Linked DNA regions of Homo sapiens. The protein of the gene in region 2 purifies or fractionates together with the protein of the main gene of each other region. This does not show direct contact. Each region holds a gene or a part of one and is shown on either strand. Other genes may lie near its edges.

Region 1 (2,756 bases), on a different chromosome or scaffold from region 2:
AAGTTCCGTCAATATAGAGTCCAGGGCACCAAGCAAGGGAGTGTCAGGACAAAGGTCGAACCAGGTCCATCTGACTCTAAAGCCTATGCTTTTAAAAAACACGACTAGGATTTATTTTTTAAATCTTGCCTTATTACCACAGGGCTATATGAACATCGCACATCATTATAGGGGGAAAGGATAAGCAGAAATAAGAAAATAAAAAGTCCATATTCCCACCACCCAGAGATGACCACTGATAGTGTATTTTCTTGCAGATATTTATATACTATGTATCTCTTCCAGATAATTATGTATGATTTACATAGTTTTGCTAAAATGAAATAGTACTGCACATACTGTTTTATAACCTTTTTTTGTGGGGTGGGGAAACAGAATCTTGCTCTGTTGTTCAGGCTGGAGTGAAGTGGCACCATCTTGGCTCACTGCAACCTCCATCTCCTGGGTTAAAGCAATTCTCCTGTCTCAGCCTCCCGAGTAGCTGGGATTACAGGCACATGCCATCACACCTGGCTAATTTTTGTATTTTTAGTACAGATGGGGTTTTACCATGTTGGCCAGGCTGGTCTCGAACTTCTGACCTCAGCTGATCCACCCGCCTCGGCCTCCCAAAGTGCTGGGATTACAGGCGTGAGCCACCACGCCAGGCCTATAACCTGCATTTTTAGTTAACAATCTTTTTCCATATATATAAATTTTTTATCTCTTTGAACACCCAGCCGGTATTCAAATTGCCTTAATTGTTCCAGAAGTATCTTTTAGAGCTTGTCCAACCCAATATCAAATCTAGCACATGTGCCTCAGGTTTTCATGTCCCTTTTATTTTAGCACAGTGCCTTTTAAATGACTTGGAGAGACCAAGCCAGCAGTCCTGCAGAATGTTCCACCTGGATTTTTCTGGCTGTTCATGATGTCTTATGACAGGTTCCATGATCTCCTGAATGCTGGAAGTTAGATCTGATGGCTTGATAGATGCAAGTTCAACATGGGGCTAGAACACATTACAGGTAGTGCTGCAATTTACACTCAGAGAGATGTAACATCCTGTTAATTCCCATTCATTAATGATGCCGTCATGACCTTCTAATTAGGGGAATGACAGGTGGATTTTTCCATGGTTCAGTTGACATTTACCCCTTTATGACCAAAAGGTCATCTAGATGGCTTACTTTGGCACCACGCAAATGTCTAGATTCTTTTGTAGGAAAACCGTTCCTTCAACCAGGGCTGTTTGGTTTCACTGAAATAAACTCCTATGGGAAAGGTTTCATTCCATTCCCTAATAACCTATTTTCTAAGTAAGGAGATGGTTTAAGAGCCACTTCAGAGGATGACAATTGCTCTTCTTCCTAGTACATCCTGTGTTTTTCTATCTGCTGCCGTCCCAGGCATGGGGACCATTCCTGGGTGTGACAGGTCATGTGACCAAAGTCTCCGCTAGCAGTTCCACATCTTGAGGACAGGCCAAACCAGTGACAGATCCCGAGGGAGTTCTGAATGTGCTGCTGAAGCTGTATTAGAAGGTGCACTAGCTCAGGAAAGAGGGTCTCTCCAGACCTCAGCTGAGGGGAGCCTCATGTCACCTCCCCTGGATGCAGCTTGACTTGGAACTGAGAGTGAATGGGACATGTTCTAAAGGAGCAGTGGACTAGGAGTGGGGAGTCCTGCCACTGAACCAGCCCTGGGAGCACCTAGATGCTCATCAAATGATCAAGAACAATTAGGTGGGTGGGACAGACAGGACCCAGGCTGCTGGGGAAGAAGGCAGGCTCCAAGGTCTGGAGGAGACAGAGGCGATGGGGGTGGGGCATGAGGGGAGAGGGTGTGCCCAGGGCCTTGCCCCCAACGTGACCTTGCTCCTGTCCCCTGTCTCTATCCCAAGCAGCTGTATGTGGCCACCGTGCTGCAAGAACCGGAGTTGAATCTGACCCCCGCCTCCTCCCCAGCCAGGCACACCTATGGCACCATGAACAACCAGCCGGAAGAGGGAGAAGAAGAGAGTGGTCTGAGGGGCTTTGCGAGGGAGCTAGACTCGGCCCAGTTCCAGGAAGGGCTGGAACTGGAGGGCCAGAACCAGTACCACTGACCGGGACCTGAGGCCTCCACTGGCGACTTGTTGAGGGGTCAGGGGAGGGCCTGGCAAGGGGAGGCAGGAGGGTGGCCTGGACCTCCCCACTACCTCCTGCAGACTTTGAGAAGCCCACAGTGGAGACATCCACCACCCCAGCCATGGGCCATACGGGGGTCCTGACCTGCTGCCCGGCTGGAACTGGGGGTGCTCGGCAGTGCTGAAGGAGCCTGGGAAGGGATGGGAGGATACAGGCAAGCACATGTCTTGAGAGAGGTGGCTGGAGCCCCGGCACAGAGACTGAACGCTGGGGTCCCTTCCTGGGACCAAGATGGAGAAGGTGTTCCTAAGGGAGGAGACAGAAGGAGGCTGCCGAAGGCTCTGTGGGGTCATCACCACTCTGCATCAGCTGCCCTTCCAAGGAGCTTCTGCTGCTGCTCCTCCTCCCAGCCCCGGCCCATTCCTCCCCTGCAGTCTGAGGAGGCAAAGGTATGTGCACGGGGCACATTGACAGGACACGGAGGACCACCTCATCACAGGGTTCCCTGCATGGGGATCTGTAAAGAGAAAGTTTCTGCACCCACCAGAGCAAGAGCCAACTGAAAGCGTAGACCTGAGAAGAGGTAACTCAGCCCCTTCCTGCTCCTCTGCCCTCATCAGATGTCCCCAGGAGCAGCAGGGCAGAGGC
Region 2 (3,657 bases):
ACAGAGCTTTAGCTGCTCTTATTTGCCAAAGGGAGTTTGAAGACCTGGCTGTAGTGTAAATGGTGACGTTGGTTGCTCTGAGGAGTATCTATTTTTGCATTTTTTAGTGTAGATACAGGGAATACAAGGTTTGAGGACTTTTTTTTTCCAGGATAGGTGTGGAAAAAGCTAAGTCAAAAAGGCTTAAATACACTATTTATGTATTTAAAAAAGGACTTGATTCTAGGAGGAAAATACAGATTTCTGGAAAATTAAACAGCTATCTTAAAAAAAAAAAAAGATTTTACAATGGCAGGAAAAACACTACCCACATCTGTTATATTTTTGTGGAACTGTGGCAGTGATGCTTATAGACTGGGATACATCTGCTGTTCTTTGCAACAATGAGCGATATGGACTCTGAGAAGGAGAGAAGCCATGTGGGATGGCCAAGTCTTTGGCAGAGTAGGTGGATTTCATAAGTTACCTAGCACTCGGCGCCTCTTCATGATTTGGCCTTGACCCTTCCTGAGCATCTTACAGGCACTTACACAACTCCATGACTTTGTAAACACTGGTCCTTTGGCCTCTAATATTCTTTGCCCCTACCTTTTCTTTAATCACCCCCTCAAGGCTCAGTGCAAATGTTGCTTCTTGCTTCTTTGGTGAAGCCTTCTCTGAGCTCCCCAGACCATGCCAGAGGTCAGGGCAAGAGAATGCTGGAGGACAGCACAGATTCTTGTCATGCCCCAAGGGGACATGACTGAAAAAGCCCTTAAAGATCCTGCTGTTTGCCAGCCAACACTGGAGAGCGGGACCTAAGAGGATGCTGATTTTATGGAAAAGCAAGTGGGATGGCAAGCAGGCTCCATTTAAACAATATGAATCCTTCTGTATGGAGAAAAACTTGAAAGCAATCTGTGTGCCCAGAGGAGTGCTGAGACATAAGTAAAACTGTCCTCGGGCTCTTATAAACCAGTGGCATGCTGGGGTGTGTCTTTTTGGAAAACCATGTCAAAATAGGGTGTGAGCATCATCCCACAGGAGTACATGAGGTTCCTTGGGTCTTCAAATGCAGGAAGCTAGACCTTACCATGATCACTTTCTGTTCCTGATCGACCCCAGTAGCGGCGCCTTCTTTCTGGACTGTGTGCATGTCGTTCGATGACCGCAGCTATAAACCGAGTGTTGCTGACTGTAGGAAGCCAAGGACAGTTAATGTCACTCTTATGCCAGTATCTCCATTGTTTCAAACACATTTGCTCTGAGAGGGCTCATTTACATGCTGGGAGAATTCTCTTTGGAAAGCCAGAATAAATCATTTTTTAAACAATTCTGGGGATTGGGGTGCTGATTTTAGAACTGGTGCAGTGAGAGGTATTTAATTATATATCTCCAACGTGCATCAGGAAGCTATGGTCTAGTAGCTGAAGGCCAGGGTGTCTTAACACTAATGGAAATCTCTTTTGATAAAGAAAATGCTCTTTTTTCCTCCCTGAGTTGTACATACTAGTTAAGGGATTTTTTAAAAAATGCATACCTGAAACTTCCTTTTCTAAAATACTATGGTTGGAAAATAATGAGCAAGAGAAACAAAGGAAAGGGTGAGCTGTTTTAGGCCAACACACTTAATGCAAAAAAAAAAAAAAAAAAAAAAACACAATAAAATCTTTTGAGATTCTCTAAAACAAAGACCTACACGTACTCCTAACAAAAAAGGATGGAAAAAAACAACTAAAAAAACCCAGCCACCGTGTCAAAGCTTCTTAAATTTTAATACAAGCCAAAAGGATATAAGAAAGAATATTTATTCTGGATTAGCCTCCTGCTGACACATTCTGCAGCAAGGCAGCTGAATACTCACTGATGCCTCTGTCTTCGTGGCTGTCGTCGTCCCTTTCATCTCTGTCATTCTCCAGGTTGGACATACGCACTGACATTTCTACCCATCATTAAAAAGAGAGAAACATGACTATTTAATCAAACAAAATCACCCGCTTTAATACCCTGCTGAGCACTTGTTTGATGGCTGGGTGACAGCATTCCATCAAGAATGAATCCCATCTTAGAAGGGAATGAACTGATGCCCCATGTTTTTTTAAAGGAGGAGGGAGCAGGAATCCAAACAAGAAGAACAAGTAATCAAGAGACATCTGAAATTCATTTCTGAGAAAGGAGGAGAAAAGAAGTTGATTGAGGCCAACAAATCTTTAATCCTCTACTAAAGTACTGAAACAGAAGGAAAGGGATTGAAAAATGACTGACTGTGTTGGTGAAATGGTGCAACAAAAGCCTCCAAAAGGCCAGGCATAAGCTAACACTGGATGACGGTCATCCTCAGTCTAGCTGAATCTCACCAAGGGAAGCACATGGTGATTATCCCTGTTACTAAATCAGGTAACATTACTCCATGATTCCCCTTCAGGCTTGTGGCCATAGTGAAATGCTTTAACATCAACCTGTCATTACAGCTGTTAGAGTGAGCTAAGTGGCCAGGAAGATGAGTTAACTTCACCTCCAAAAAGGTCAGGTCAACACATCCCCGGGGACTGGGGTTTTAGGAAGGATGGAGATGGCCATTAAACAGTTTTGTTCCCTGCAAACAGAGTACAGATACTGCACTTAAACAGAGTATAGATACTGCACGTGGTATTGAGGCCATGATTATAGGTGAATCATTTTGTACTTGGCTTCGATGACTTTTTTTTTTTTCAGATGGAGTCTCACTCTTTCGCCCAGAATGGAATGCAATGGCGCGATCTTGGCTCACTGTAGCTTCCATCTCCTGGGTTCAAGCGATTCTCCTGCCTCAGCCTCCCAAGTAGCTCAGACCACGGGTAGGTGCCACCGCACCGGCTAGTTTTTGTATTTTTAGTAGAGGCGGGGTTTCACCATGTTGGCCAGGCTGGTCTTGAACTCCTGACCTCAAATGATCCACCCACCTCGGCCTCCCAAAGTGCTGGGATTACAGGCATGAGCCACCGCGATTGGCCGACTTATCCTGTTTTAAGAGATGTGATTATTCAAATGTGTGTTTATTCACACTACATAATGGCAGCTGCAATCGAACAGATTATATTCTTGCCATTAGTGATCTGGGGTATCTTTGATTTGCCTGTCTTTTTGGAATTGCAAGGGCAGCACATCTAACAAACAAAATTTCCCACTCAGCATCCCAGCTCCCCTGACTGGCTTATTGCAGAGGCAGGCCACTGGGGGCTAATGCTGGTAAGGAGAGGATCCAGGGATTTTTCCGGGGATCAAAATAGAGCTTGTAGGGTTTAGGCACTGAAGAAGAAAGCAGGCTTTGGGAACTTCCAAAATGACTCCACAGAAGCTGAAAGTATAGCACTGTTCTGACAGTTCCTTAGAGGCTTACACAACCCGCCACTGTCCTTCTAGCCTGGCTGCTGCCTCCCCTGTGGGGTTCATTTTGAGCTCACCTTGGGCAGCAAGAGGAGACATATGCTGATGGCTCCGGCGATGAATCTGGTGGCGGTAGGCATACACCGCCAGGACCAAGACCATGATGCATCCCATGATCCCTCCAGCCACAGGACCCACAGGGGCGCTTTTAATCATGTTTAATGTGATCACCTCATCACCTTCAGTGAAAGAGCAAGAAGATGTTTCTTGTTAAGATTTCCCAAGTGGGGAAGAAAGTAAGGATGGTGAGAT
Region 3 (3,657 bases), on a different chromosome or scaffold from region 2:
AACAGGTTATATTCAAGCTACTCTTTTCCCCTTCAGATAAGAATTAGACTTTATAGCTTTATTGTAGTATAATTGACATACAATAAGCTGTACATATTTCAAAGGTACTCTCTCTATATATATACATAAAACTGTCACCACAATCAAGATAGTGAACATATCCATCAATCCCCAAAATCTCCTCATGCCCCTTTGTAATCTCTCTCTCCTACCCCACCTTACTTCCTATCCCGAAATAGCCACTGATTTACTTTCTGTCACTATAAATTAGTATAAACTTTTTTTCTTTCTTTCTTTTGGTGGAGGTGTCAGGAAATGAACTTGAGGACTGATTAGTTTGCATTTTGTAAAGTTTTTGTCCCTGAAATCTCCTTCATCTAATATTAATGTAGTGTACAATGCAGTGGCATGAAGTACGTGCACAATGGTGTGTAACCATTACTACTATTTATTTCCAAAACTTGAAATGGAAACTCTGTAACCAGTAACACCACTTCCCCCAGTACCCAGTAAACTCTATTTTCTTTCTCTATGTATATGCCTATTCTCTCTCTCTCTGTGTATATATATATTTTTGTTGTTGTTGTTGTTATTCTGTCACCTGGGCTAGAGTGCAGTGGCATGATCATAGCTCACTTCAACCTTGACCTCCTTGGCTCAAGCAATCCTCCCTCCTCAGCCTCCCAAAGTGCTGGGATTATAAGCATGAGCCACCCTGCCTGGCCCATTTTGCCTTTTCTAGATATTTTGTATAGGTAGAATCATACAATACTTGTCCTTTTGTGTCCTTTTTTTTTTTTTAGATCCAGCTCTTTTTTTTTATTTTTTATTTGTTTGCATCGTGTCTGTCTTTTGCTTAACATAAGGGTGTTAAGTTTCCTCCATGTTGTAGATGAAGAGTATCAGAACTTAATTCCTTTTTAATAGTCAAATAATATTCCATTTTATGGTTATACCATGCTTTATCTGTTCATCTGTTGATGGACACTTGGATTGTTTTCACCTTCTGGCTATTGTAAATAGTGCTGTTATGAACATTAGTATACAAATATCTGTTCGAGTTACAGTTTTTAGTCCTTTGAGTATAAGCGGAATTACTAGGTCATATAGCAGTGCTGTGTTTAACTTTTTGAGGAACCACCAAACTGTTTTTCACAGTGTTGGCACCATTTTACATTTCTACCAGCAATGTATCAAATGTATCAGCTGTTTTTTTTTAATTTTATTTATGTTATTTTTTAGACAGAGTCTCGCTCTGTCACTCAGGCTGGAGTGCAGTGGCGCAATCTTGGCTCACTGCAAGCTCCGCCTCCTGGGTTCACGCCATTCTCTTGCCTCAGCTGCCTGAGTAGCTAGGACTACAGGCGCCCGCCACCATGCCTGGCTAATTTTTTTTTTTTTTTTGTATTTTTAGTAGAGATGGGGTTTCACCATGTTAGCCAGGATGGTCTTGATCTCCTGACCTTGTGATCCGCCTGCCTCGGCCTCCCAAAGTGCTGGGATTACAGGCGTGAGCTACCGTGCCCGGCCTCAACTGTCTTTTTTTTGAGACGGACTCTCGGTCTGTTGCCGCAGCTGGGGTGCAGTGGCGCGATCTTGGTTCACTGCAACCTCCACCTCCTGGGTTCAAGTGATTCTTTGTGCCTCAGCTTGCTGAGTAGCTGTGCCTCAGCTTGCTGAGTTACAGCTGTGCAGGTGTACACCACCACACCCAGCTAATTTTTGTATTTTTGGTAGAGACAGGGTTTTGCCATGTTGCCCAGGCTGGTCTCGAACTCCTGACCTCAAGCGATTCACCCGCCTTGGCCTCCCAAAGTGCTGGGATTACACGTGTGAGCCACTGTGCCCGGCCTCAAATGTCTTTTAAAGAAACAAAAATTTTTGTCCAACAAAAGTCAAAGCTAATTCTTCTTGGAAAAGTTTTTGTTAAAATAACTTTTTAAAATAAAAACCATTCTGTCCATCAAAAACTTTATTAGATACTTCCTGTATGTGCCTAATTCTATGCTAGGTATTATGATAGTACACAAAAAGTGTAGAACATCTTGAATAATTTTAATCTAGTTAGGAAGATAAAGCACATATTCAACAAACGTTTATTGAACATATAAATGGAATTCAGCAGAGAATGAGGTACTGTAGACCTTTCACTCTGCCCCATTTATTTTTCCAATTTTGGCTTCTCTCCTGTACTTGAGAACCACATTTCTAATTGCCTGCTGGACACACCATCTGGACATATTATAAAAATCTCAAATCTAAAAAACCCAAAGTCAGATTTTTTGCTGCTTCCTATCTTTCCATTTTCTTCTCCATCTTCCTGTATATCATCCTTCCTTTTGTGTGATCCTTCTCAGATTTCATCTTAGATTTGTCTGTGTATGTCCTTTAAGCACCACCTCTTACCTAGTTGTACCACTGAAATGGCAAACCTCCTGCCCTTTCCTGCCTTGGAAGTTAGGCCTTTGGTAACTGTAGCTTAGAGGATGAACTCGTGACTTCTTGGAATTGCATAAAAACTAATCCTTCACTCCAGCCTTATCTCCTACAACTTCACCCTTGGAACCTAGTGTGACCTTTTCCTGGGTCTTGGACTATACTGTGATCTTTCACTTGCCTGAGTTACCTTTTCCCTTTCTATTAACGTTGCAGCTTCCTACTTCACGTTGGCCTGCAGTGTATTCTCCACTCTCAGAATACTCTAAACCTTTCTGTTATGGTACCTAGAATGCTGTTTAAAACTCTGTCTTAATCCACTGATTTTGGGTAGAAATTGGGTTATTACTCATTTTAGCAAGAATTTACTGAACCTCTACTGTATGTGCTAAGCATCGTTCTTGATAATGGAAATATAATAAGTACAAGAAAGACTGTAAATAATAGTTTTGCTTATAAGTAATATAATTTCAGAAGTCTGAAGTGCTATGAAGAAAATAAAGCCAGATAAGGATATAGGGAATGCTGGGAAGGAGGTGTTATTTTATTTGGTTGGGATGGTCAAGGAAGGTTTCTGTGAGGAGGTGACATATAAACTGAGGCCAGGCATGGTGGCTCACACCTGTAATCCCAGCACTTTGGGAGGCAGAAGTGGAAGAATTGATTGAGCCCAGGAGTTCGAGACCAGCCTGGGAAACATAGCAAGACCCTGTCTCTACAAAGAAATAAAAACAAATTAGCCAGGTATCGTGGTGTGTACCTGTAGTCCTAGCTACTTGGGAGGCTGAGGTGGGAGGATTGCTTGGGCCTAGGAGTTCAAGGCTGTAGTGAGCTATGACCATGCCACTGCACTCTAACCTGAGTGACAGAGTGAGATCCTGTCACTAAAAAAGAAAAATAAAAGCTGAGACCCAAAGGATGAGAACATACCTGTATAGATCTGGGAGATTATTATTCTAGGCAAAGACAACTTGAGCAAGTACAGTGACCCTAAGAATGGAATCAACTTGGCATGTTCCAGCAACTGCAAAAAAGCCAGTAGGAAATAAGGGCAAAAAGGGAGGCAGTGTTCAGATCTTGCAGGCTATTAGAGTATTCCAGGTGAGAGAGGATGGTAGGACAATAGTGAGAAGGGATTGGATTACAAATAGTTTGGGCAGTGGGGAGAGGATAAATATATTATTCAAGGCACAACAGACAGGATTTACTGATGGATTATAT

The links.
Region 1: the proteins of CACHD1 (region 2) and TMEM63C fractionate together in Homo sapiens (co-fractionation; one large-scale study listed by BioGRID). This does not show direct contact.
Region 3: the proteins of CACHD1 (region 2) and SLC26A2 fractionate together in Homo sapiens (co-fractionation; one large-scale study listed by BioGRID). This does not show direct contact.

What each region holds. Positions count from the first base shown.
Region 1 is NC_000014.9:77,254,641-77,257,396, forward strand, and holds part of TMEM63C (osmosensitive cation channel TMEM63C), read left to right. Parts: intron 1-1,885; coding exon 1,886-2,086; 3' UTR 2,087-2,756.
Region 2 is NC_000001.11:64,679,522-64,683,178, reverse strand, and holds part of CACHD1 (VWFA and cache domain-containing protein 1 isoform 1 precursor), read right to left. Parts: intron 3,585-3,657; coding exon 3,423-3,584; intron 1,922-3,422; coding exon 1,844-1,921; intron 1,175-1,843; coding exon 1,073-1,174; intron 1-1,072. UniProt on the Homo sapiens protein: May regulate voltage-dependent calcium channels.
Region 3 is NC_000005.10:149,967,190-149,970,846, forward strand, and holds part of SLC26A2 (sulfate transporter), read left to right. Parts: intron 1-3,657. UniProt on the Homo sapiens protein: Sulfate transporter which mediates sulfate uptake into chondrocytes in order to maintain adequate sulfation of proteoglycans which is needed for cartilage development.